Linked DNA regions of Homo sapiens: region 1 is linked to region 2. Evidence: fine-mapped expression QTL. A gene starts in region 2. The other region holds a variant in brackets. All regions are shown on one strand. Distances are between the middles of the regions. Region 1 overlaps ARHGAP44 (Rho GTPase activating protein 44). Region 2 holds the start of ELAC2 (elaC ribonuclease Z 2).

Region 1 (5,373 bases), 28 kb after region 2:
GGCCTGACCCTTGGCCTTCCGGAATGAAGGGGCAGAGCCGGAGCCAGGCCTCGTTTTTCAGGAGCTTGATTTTGAGAGCATCTGGACTGCTCTCCCTTCCCTCTCCGGAGGCCCTTAGCCAGGCCTGGGGAGCCTCTGCCCCTTTAGAGGGTTCCCTCCATGCCATTCTTTTTTCCATTTCAGCTGTGGCCTGTTGGCTTGTGCCAAGGAAGGGGCGTTGGCGCTGCTGTGTGAGCACATGACTGCATCCCTTCCAGCTCCTGTCCCCCACCCCTGCCCCTCTGAGACATGTCCTTGTCTTCTATTGTGTCTTCTAGGTCTGCTTTGGAGACTTTCCAACAATGCCCAAGCTGATTCCCCCACTGAAAGCCCTGTTTGCTGGCGACATCGAGGAGATGGAGGAGCGCAGGGAGAAGCGGGAGCTGCGGCAGGTGCGGGCGGCCCTCCTGTCCAGGGAGCTGGCAGGCGGCCTGGAGGATGGGGAGCCTCAGCAGAAGCGGGCCCACACAGAGGAGCCACAGGCCAAGAAGGTCAGAGCCCAGTGAAGATCTGGGAGACCCTGAACTCAGAAGGCTGTGTGTCTTCTGCCCCACGCACGCACCCGTATCTGCCCTCCTTGCTGGTAGAAGCTGAAGAGCACGGTCCCCCAGGAGGCAGCTCAGGATAGGTGGTATGGAGCTGTGCCGAGGCTTGGGCTCCCACATAAGCACTAGTCTATAGATGCCTCTTAGGACTGGTGCCTGGCACAGCCGCGGGCCAGGAGGCTGCCACACGGAAGCAAGCAGATGAACTAATTTCATTTCAAGGCAGTTTTTAAAGAAGTCTTGGAAACAGACGGCGGCACCTTTCCTCTAATCCAGCAAAGTGATTCCCTGCACACCAGAGACAAGCAGAGTAACAGGATCAGTGGGTCTAAGTGTCCGAGACTTAACGAAAATAGTATTTCAGCTGCAATAAAGATTGAGTTTGCAATTGTGAGTTCTTTTGCTTCCTCCTGCTGCTGCTACAGAGCAGGGTCTGCTGTGCACCACCTTGGAGAAGGCTCTCTGTGCTGTAGTGTGGCAGCTGCCTGGTACCCGGGTGGCTTGGAAGAAGTCAGCTCCCGTCGTAGTGAGCACCTCTGGAACCTGTCCTCAGAGAGCCACCCTTATTCGCCAAGTCTTTTTGACAACTCGAGCTGTGCCAGCTCACAGCAGGGCGTGCTTTCTCTATCAATCAATCAATCAATCAATCAAATCAATCAGTGAGAGCCTGGCTGGGCTGGTGTCATTGGTCAGGGAAATGCAAGTCTTCTGGTGGTTCTGGGTAAAAGTGGAGACAATAGATTTGCTGTGTTGTTGCTTCCATACTGAGAGGAGTGAGGATCACTTTGCCCTCGAAGGTTTTGAGAAATGGCACACGGGGCTGGTTTCCATTGTCCTCCTTGCGGGATTTACAGACGTGGATTAGTGCTCGACAAATGGAGAGCATTTTCCAAGGAAGTAAGTAAGTAAAGTAAGTAAGTAAGTAAGTAAGTTGAATCTAGTATTTATTGTGTATATTCCCTACCCAGGAGAATGTAAAAAGAAGAGCTTTAAAAACTCAAAAGACAAGCAAGCGAGAGATCAGCCAGGGACCTGGCTTTACACAGGTGGTGACCTTCAGGCTCCATCCCGGTGTGCATTTGAGATTGACGGCCATGTCCCCGCAGGTTTATTAAAGCAAGAACAGATGCCAAGCTCAGGGATAATAAATCTATTTTAATAACGTTACTTTTGACAACGATTTGTACATGTATTTAAAGATAACAACTTTCAACCCCCACCCTTACCCCAGACTCCCATTACAAATTGAGGCATGACCTGCCCTTGCCAGGAAGTGAGCAAAGCTGCAACATCAAAACTCTGCACATCCCACTCTCAGAGGAGGGTGACTTTACACTGTGTTGGGAAAAATAACTAAGCATTTAAATTTTTCATTGTACACCTGTACATTGGTTTAGATTGAATGGCTCAAATTAAACAAATATAGAGAGATTTCATATATACAAATATTATATCATGTATAGGTATATTATATCATCTATTTGAAAAGGATAAAATTTTAAACTTTGACTTTGCATGCATGGCCCAAATCTTTTCTCACTCCCCTAATCCCCAAGTGTGAAAAGGCTACCCGGTGCCCTCCCGGCCCTCGTCCCCATGACCAGATGGGACTTCATGAGAAGGAAATGAGCGGCTGACGCTGGTGAGCAAAGCAGGCCACACCGCAGGCCGAGCCCGTGGGCCAGCGTCTCCGTGGCTGGTTTCACTTTTCCTCCACATGCTTTGGGTAACGTAATTATTGCTATTCAGTTTGAACCTCCAGAAAGAAGAGACAGGCTCCAGGACCCCACAGACTAGTGAACTGGGTGCCTTTAGGTACGTAGAGGGGTAAAATTACTCTCATATAGCCAATATATTTGGGGACAGGGAGGCCACCTTTGGCTCCTCCAGACACT[G/T]TCAGGCTTGTTTGTTTTGTTTTATAGATTCAGAAATATAAAATGATATAGGAGCTTTCAGTCACACAGTGGAAAAAGGAAAACTGTTAGGAAGTGAAACATTTTTGTTTTCAGCCATTTACTTTGGAGCCCACTGATGGGGGCGGCCTGAAAGGTTTTCCAGTGGCAAGCCCTCCCCCAGGTAGCTGGCAAAGGTCAGTGCCCCAGGACTGCTAGAATCCTGGACCTGGTCCAGTTGTGGGTGAGAGGGGCCCTGCTGTCCTGCTTCCTTTCTGTGGCCATTAAACTGATCCTGCAAGACCTGACATGAGCCGTCCAAGGAAAAGGTAGCAGCCCTTGGGTCTAACCAGGCAAAGTGAGCCTCTCCCGCACCACCCCGACCCTGCAAAGGACGTTCCTGACCAGCCTTGGATGGAGAGGTGGGTGTTTTCTGGCATGGAGGCTGAAAGTGGATCAAAAGAGGCACAAAGTCAAAAGGCAAAGGTCAAACAAAAGGCCGAAGTCACCACCCGAAAGGAACAAACAAAACCTGCACCACCAGCATCACCACACGGACTGGAGATCACAATTTTCTGCCAAATTCCAACCTCGTGTTGGCAGTGGCAGGAAAGAGCCAGCAGAGAACACTTGGCAAGCTCATGGACGCTGCTCCTGGCGGCGTTCCTAGGGCCCGTGATGTATGTACACGCGAGGCAGGATGGGCGGTGTCATGTCAGAGGGCGGTGCTCTCAGACTCCTCCTCCGAGTCCCTCTTGTCAGTTACTGAGTGTCGCCGCATGTGCTCCAGGGGACTCAGGCGGAGCGTCGACCCGAGCTCTATGTGGATCGAGGGAATATCAAAGTGGACAAGATCTGGAAGGCGGCAGAGAGAGAGGTGGTTGAAAGGAGGCTTCCCGGCAAATGAGAACCTAGTTGTAGGCAAATAATGTCAGCCTTAGGAGGCAGGGGTGCTGCTATTCTAGGGATAGATCATTTGGAGGTTGGTTTAAGCATTGTGTTGCACAGTCGATCAGGTTGTGCTCATGCCTGCTTTGCTTCTACCCCATAAGTTCGTAGAACCAAAGCACCCAGGATACGCCACTGTGGTTCAGAGGAAGGCCAGAACAGCACTCCCCTGCCAAGCCACAGGGTCCTTTATTCTTGATAAGAAGGATGCTGAGTAGGTCTCAATGACACCTTTTTGGGGATCTATATCAGACGACTGCATTTCATTCCCCAGAATCTGCAGGGACAGGACGTGAGACAGTGGACCCCTTTCTCCTCTCAAGCCTGTGAGAGAATGGGGAACCCTGAGCCAGTGTCCTCACTCTAAGAAACAGCTGCATTTTGGATGGCTGACATGGGTGGAGTAGAAGGTCTCCCTCAGGACCCTGGTTGTCATTGGTGCCAACTGTCCCTGACTGCAGGACAACCCCCACCTCTGGTTACATCCTTATTTATTAGGAGCATTAAAAGGTCATTTTTCCCGGCAAGATGAACAGGAGAAATGTACTTGAAATAACAGCTCAGTGTCTGGACGTCTCTGAGTCGGCAAAGACGACAGAAGTCCTTAGACTGGCAGCTGAGTGGACACGAAGCCTCTTTGCCACACCACGTTAAAAAAAATCCCCTTGCTGCTGCAGCCGCCGCCCTGGGGGACACTGACGAGGCTGTGCTTGCTGACTCCTCCAGGATGTGCTACAGCCAGAGAGCCAGAAAACCACAGATCCCCTGGGTCCTTTACTCTCGTCATGCTGTCCCCTTCCTCCGCCTGCTTAGTTTTTTTTTTTTTTTTTTTTTTTTGGGGGGGGTGGAGTTTCGCTCTTGTCACACAGACTGGAGTGCAATGGCACAATCTCGGCTCACTGCAACCTCTGCCTCCTGGGTTCAAGCGATTCTCCTGCCTCAGCCTCCCGAGTAGCTGGGATTACAGGCACCCACCACCATGCCCGGCTAATTTTTTTTTTTTTTTTTTTTTTGGTGTTTTTAGTAGAGATTGGGTTTCACCATGTTGGCCAGGCTGGTCTCGAACTCATGACCTCAGGTGATTCACCCACTTCAGCCTCCCAAAGTTTTGGGATTACAGGCGTGAGCAACCACGCCCGGCCTGCCTGCTTAGTTTCTGGCCGTCACTTAGCTTTGCAAGGCTGGGAGCAGCACTCCAGGAGGCAGAGGAAGGGAACACATGTTCAGACTGGGGAATACCATACTAAGTGTACAGACATACATTTGGACACTGTCCTGAAAGACATCATACAAACATGGAAGCTCTTGAACAAAGGTCCTCCCTTGCCCCAACCCCCAGGCAGCCCTCACGTCCTTCCAGTCTTTGTTTTGCTGCCTGATGGAGAAGCAGAGATTTGGGGCGTGGGGCTGGAGGAACAGCCAGTGCCACTTGTTCCTCTGAAGCAGGTGGCCTCAGACCCACCTCTGCCCTTCCCCAGCTACTTGGGTCATGTCTCTACACAGGTGTGAGGCTGAGTGGCCCGGGGCCCACCTCACTGTGCAGGGTTCGCTATCAGGTAAGAGCACCAAGCTCCCCTGCTTAGATTCAAAAATCCCAAATATGTCAGGCAGGAAGAGCATGACCTTGGACAAGTTTCCTACCTTCCCTGTGCCTCAGCAGTCAAATGGGAATAATACAGGGCGGTGATGAATTTAGACAGGCCCAGAACAAGCACTTGTGTGAGCTGTCATACCTTTATCCTTGCTGCTCCCTTAAAGACACCCCCAAGGGAGGAGTCACTATGCAAGGGAATGGGATTCAGGGGCAGAAGCCCTCATCAGCATTCCTGGGAAAAGGGACACAGTGGCTGCTTGTCTCCAGGACACTCGGGAAGCACCCGCCAGGAGACCTGTCTGTGAGCACCAGATATCCTGGTGCGCCTCGGTAGTCTCTGCAGGACCATGGGCCA
Region 2 (5,353 bases):
AAGAGGTAGAATATAATTTTCCTCCCTTTGAATCTAGGTGGGTGCTGTCTGTGTCTTGCGTTGACTTCTGGGCCTAATTCTTCAGAAGCATTGCAATTTCATTTCATCCTTTTGGAGGCTGACCACCATTCAGAGAAGCTCAGCCTAACTACTGAATGTGGACAGTCTACATGGATGGAGAGGCAATGGGAAATGAACCAAAGCACCCCCAGCAGGGCCAGTACCCAGGACCCACACCTGTGAGTGTGAGGTTCCACTCCCATTGAGCCACCCAGCAGCCACTGCAAGGAGCAGAGACAGGCTATTCTTACTAAACACAACCGTGACCAACAAAAGGACTGAAAGTGATTTCAAGCCACAAGCTGCCCATATACAAAATGGATAACAAAAAGAGACTCAAAGCAAGAGGAAGTGGCTGTATTATATTAATTGTTAATATCACTGACTTCTGAAAGTCTGTCGCCTCGATTTCCACTTTCTCTGCTGTCCCGATGGTCAGGCTGCCTCTACTCCAGCAAGTCCAGAGACACTTTTCTGTTTCAGACTCTCTGAACTATCCTTTTGGAGGTACCAGTCACACCAATCCCCTTCAGAAAACACATACATTGTTGTCTTGATTCAATTTTAGGCCCTGCTTAGTTGTAAACTGAAAACCTCATTTAAGCTACTGGCTTGCTTCTAATTTCCTAGTATTTATTGTCTGCCACAAGCCAGACTCTGTCCTAGGAGCTAATGATACAGCAGAGGACCAGATAGACAAATCCCAGGCTCATGAAATTTACATTCCAGTATAACCTCAGATTGAAGAAGTACTAGCTATTGTCTTCATATACCAGGAATAAAAATATGACCCAAAGCATAAGTGCAGAAAGTACACTGGGCCCTAGAAACAACCTAAATAGCATCCAGCCCTCAGAATTTTATATAAGTCGATGACCAAAAGTGATTCCTCCTATAATTTTGAGATAAGTAGTTTGAGATTACCCAACAGATAGATATGCACATAGGGCACCAATAAAATAGAGGAACCAATGTATTTTTGTTTGTGAAATTTGATATATTTTTTAAAAGGATCAAAGCAGTCATCACAGGAAAAAAATCAGTATTTTATTTATTGCACTACACTTTTTAAAAGTAGTTTTAATGAATTAATTTTCTTTTTCTTTTTTTTTTTTTTTTTTTTTTGTAGAGAGTGTCTCACTCTGTCAGCCAGGCTGGAGTAAAGTGGTATGATCATAGCTCACTGCAGCCTCAAACCCCTGGGTTCATGTGATCCTCCTGTCTCAGCCTTCAGAGTAGCTGGGACAACAGGTGTGTGCCACCATGTCCAGCTAATTTTTACTTATTTTTAAATTTTTTAGTATTTTTTGGTAGAGATGAGGTCTCGCTTTGTTGCCAGAGCTGGTTTGTTTGTTTGTTTTTGAGATGGAATCTCCCTCTGTCACCCAGGCTGGAGTGCAATGGTGTGATCTTGGCTCACTGCAACCTCTGTCTCTGGGGTTCAAGTGATTCTCCTGCCTCAACCTCCCCAGTAGCTGGGATTACAGGCCCATGCAACCACTCCCGGCTAATTTTTGTGTTTTTAGTAGAGACGGGGTTTCATCATGTTGGCCAGGCTGGTCTCGAACTCCTGACCTCAGGTGATCCACCTGCCTCGGCCTCCCAAAGTGCTGGGATTACAGGCATAAGCCACCATGCCTGGCCACAGAGCAGGTTTTGAACTACTAGCCTGAAGCTATTCTCCCGCCTTGGCCTCCCAAAGTGCTGGGATTACAGATATGTGCCACGGTGCCCAGGCTTTAAGCAACTTTTAAAAACTATCATTTTTATTTCAAATACTTATGGAGATGGTGGTATGATAATCTTTTCAGTTTGTAACGCCCTCTAACTGTGTAAAGTAGATCTGAAGTGTTTTCCTGACCCTCACTGGGATGGTTATTTCAAGTACAAAACGTTTTCACACCGTGGGTGATAATCTTCCATAAAAAATTTCATATTTGAATGAAAACAGCTCAAGAAATACACTAATGAGCAAAAATATATGGGGAAAGAGGAACGTGTAGTTTTGACTTAACTGAAGAAACCAAGAGGAAACTGGTCTCCATATGAAAATGTGATCCTGGAAAGTCAGGTGTCAAGATTTTCGAGTAGGAATCTACATGACTTGAATCTCCCTTACTTCCTGAATAAAAGTGACATCTTTCAGTATTTATTTAAAAAAATCATATGTCAGTGGAGCTTCCAGGTAAATTATCTTTAAAAAATCATATTTGAGTGGAGCTTCCAGGTAAATTATCTTCCTCTTTTAAGGGAGCTCCCTGTATTTCTAGCGGCTTTAACTGATATCCCTTTCAGTGAGAAATCCTCATTAGCTACATAAGAGGGGACTGGGTGTTTTTTTCAAAAAGCTGGTATTGGGACATCTACCTCTGTGATGTCCCTGGTCAGCTATATTGTCTAGGAGTTGAAACATTTTGTATTAATTTTCTATCATTTACTGGGTGCCTCTTCTGTGACAGTGCCACTCAAAGGTCTATTGATATATTATCAGGTGACTGAATTCTATATTCTGAAGTAGGAGATACTGTTATTGCTGTTATTACATTTTACACATAAGAAAGCTGAGGCTCTGAGAGGTCAAGATCACGCAGCTAACAAATGAGCCAAGACTCTTGCTTTAGAGCTTGTCCTCTATTCTTGCTTTTCTTTCCAAAAAACACTACAATTTTTGTTTTGTTTTGTTTTGTTTTGAGACAGGGTCTCGAGGTGTCACCCAGGCTGGAGTGCAGTGGCGCGATTTCGACTCACCGCAACCTCCGCCTCCGCGCTTAAGCGATTCTCCTGCCTCAGCCTCCCAAGTAGCTGGGACTACAAGCTCGGGACACCACGTAAAAATGATCAAGTTCTAACATGTATGCATACGAATTACAATGGAAATAAAATTAGCAAAGCGCTTATGCTAATGCTCAATACAATTGATTTCCTCACATTTAATCCTCACAACCACTACAACCACCTCTAACTCAAGCTCTGAGGGACTGACGTGCCCGGAGGACACAGCTCTTATCTGGTGAGAACAGGAGCGTTTTAGCGAAACTCCAAACTCCTAGGTCCCGCCTTCCCCAGGAAGGCTTTTCCTGGCACTGTGCTTCCGGAAGTCCCGCCCCAGGAGAAAAACAGCTTCCGGAAAAAATTGCGGCCGGCAAACCGGAACAGAACTAGGGGCGGGGCCGCTTGAGACGCTCTAGTATTCCTCTACTCTATGGCCACTGTCAATTGACAAGTCCCGAGCGGTAAAGCTCCTTTCTATTGGATGAGCAGCCTCGCGTAGGCGGGAAGCTCGGTGCACGGCGCGCTGATTGGCTGGATCCGCCATGCGGAGCGGCTAGGTGGTGCACGGGAAACGCGGGCGTAGGTGACCGGCGGCTTTCTCAGTTTTGGTGGAGACGGGCGCATGTGGGCGCTTTGCTCGCTGCTGCGGTCCGCGGCCGGACGCACCATGTCGCAGGGACGCACCATATCGCAGGCACCCGCCCGCCGCGAGCGGCCGCGCAAGGACCCGCTGCGGCACCTGCGCACGCGAGAGAAGCGCGGACCGTCGGGGTGCTCCGGCGGCCCAAACACCGTGTACCTGCAGGTGGTGGCAGCGGGTAGCCGGGACTCGGGCGCCGCGCTCTACGTCTTCTCCGAGTTCAACCGGTCAGTCAACGAGCCACGCCCCGTCCCGCTGGGCCCTCAGTGCGGCGCAGCCTCTGAGCATCGGGGCACCTCCCAGGGCTTCGGCTTCCCTGCTTCACACATGTGGTTCACTGTTGCGGGGGTTCGTGGAGTTATGGTGGGTGGGAAATCCGAGATTCTTTGCATCCATGTGATTTCTGCGGATCTGTGAAGAACTTCAGGCCTGGGTCTGAGCGTCCTTTTCCCAACCCTTGGGCCCCGGCCTGGCTGTCAGCACTTTCGGAGCTCCACCCTCTTCCGTGCACCCCAAGGCCAGTGTGTCGTTGTTAGCGTGTGGGGTGGACAGATCTGGTGTGTAGCCGGTGGTGGAGAAAGGACTCATTTTGTCCTAGCACCCACACACACAGGCCCCCACTCCTCTCCACCTCTGCTAAGGAGGGCTCAAAACCCACCAGCATAAATGTGGCTCGGTAGTCCAACGTGGACTTTTAATTTTTTTTTCTTTTTTTTTTTTCCAGAGTCTACAATAAAACATCTAATTGGTGTCAGAGAGTTTACAGAATAAAACCTTCTGAATGTCTTGTGTAATGTTTGTCTTGTAGGTATCTCTTCAACTGTGGAGAAGGCGTTCAGAGACTCATGCAGGAGCACAAGTGAGTCAGTCTCTTGCTTTCGGAGGGGGAGTTGATTACGGGGCTTGAAAGCCGAAATGAGAGGCCAGTTGTTTTTTATAGCAAAAGTGGTCCTTGTTCTGTTCATGTTATCCTGTTTAAATGTTTTTTCATTCTTAGGTTAAAGGTTGCTCGCCTGGACAACATATTCCTGACACGAATGCACTGGTCTAATGTTGGGGGCTTAAGTGGTGAGTATATTCTTTGCAGTGTCAGAGGCTGGTGGGAAGTCTCTGGGATTTTAACCGGCTTTACCATTTTTCCAAGTCTGGGGTGGGCAGCTACTTTTTTTTTTTTTTTTTTTTTTGTCAGTGGCGTGATCTTGGCTCACTGCAACCTTTGCCTTCTGGGCTCAGGTGATCCCCTCACCTCAGCCTCCCAAATAGCTGGGACCACACGTGTGCCCCATCACACCTGGCTAATTTTTTTTGTATGTTTTGTAGCGACGGGGTTTTGCTATGTTGCCCAGGCTGGTCTCAAACTTCTGCGATCCTCCTGTCTCGGCCTCCCAGAGTGCTGGGATTACAGGCATGAGCCACCGCACCTGGCCTGGAATTCTTTTTATACCAGCCCAGTCAGCAGCAGCACAGAGCATTAAAAGCTGTGACTCAGGAGAACAGATTTTAATATGGATACCACCTCTTAAGTGTTACCATCCACTTAGTTTCTTGCGTTGCGGGGACAGAGATTTGTGGCAGTAAACTGGAGAGTCTAGCAGTGGTGATTACAGTTAATATGTTTACCGCAGACGCCATTGGCACATTGGCAGCCACACACATACCCACTGTCCAGATTACCCTGTCATTTATGTCTATCAACCGGAAGGTCAGGATTGTGTTGCAGCCAAATTGTGTGGGCTTGGTGGCATGGACCGGAAGGAGTGAAGTGTTAGACCAGTCTCCCTTCTCAGGGCTGAGACTAGGGTGAGGCACTTAGGGTGCCAGCCCTTCACTTGCATGATTCCTTACATTTTGCACACTGGGTGCCTTGCTGCTTCACCCTAG

The links. PIP is the estimated chance that this variant, and not a neighbour inherited with it, causes the effect.
Region 1: its variant is fine-mapped to the expression of ELAC2 in CD4 T cells (BLUEPRINT, PIP 0.95).

Annotation. Positions count from the first base shown.
Region 1 is chr17:12,987,990-12,993,362 of GRCh38, reverse strand. ARHGAP44 (Rho GTPase activating protein 44) reads right to left here. Exons shown (of 21, transcript NM_014859.6): 21 at 1,720-3,331. The coding sequence ends at 3,192. It overlaps ELAC2 (elaC ribonuclease Z 2), which reads left to right. Exons shown (of 24, transcript NM_018127.7): 24 at 318-1,751. The coding sequence ends at 545. Among named protein-coding and RNA genes, the nearest start is that of ELAC2, 27 kb to the left of the region's middle. The variant G/T (reference allele first, on the strand shown) is at 2,480.
Region 2 is chr17:13,016,049-13,021,401 of GRCh38, reverse strand. ELAC2 (elaC ribonuclease Z 2) reads left to right here and starts at 3,375. Exons shown (of 24, transcript NM_018127.7): 1 at 3,375-3,699; 2 at 4,281-4,331; 3 at 4,470-4,540. The coding sequence starts at 3,455. RefSeq lists a silencer at 3,258-3,337 and enhancers at 3,858-3,917, 3,938-4,047, 3,559-4,059.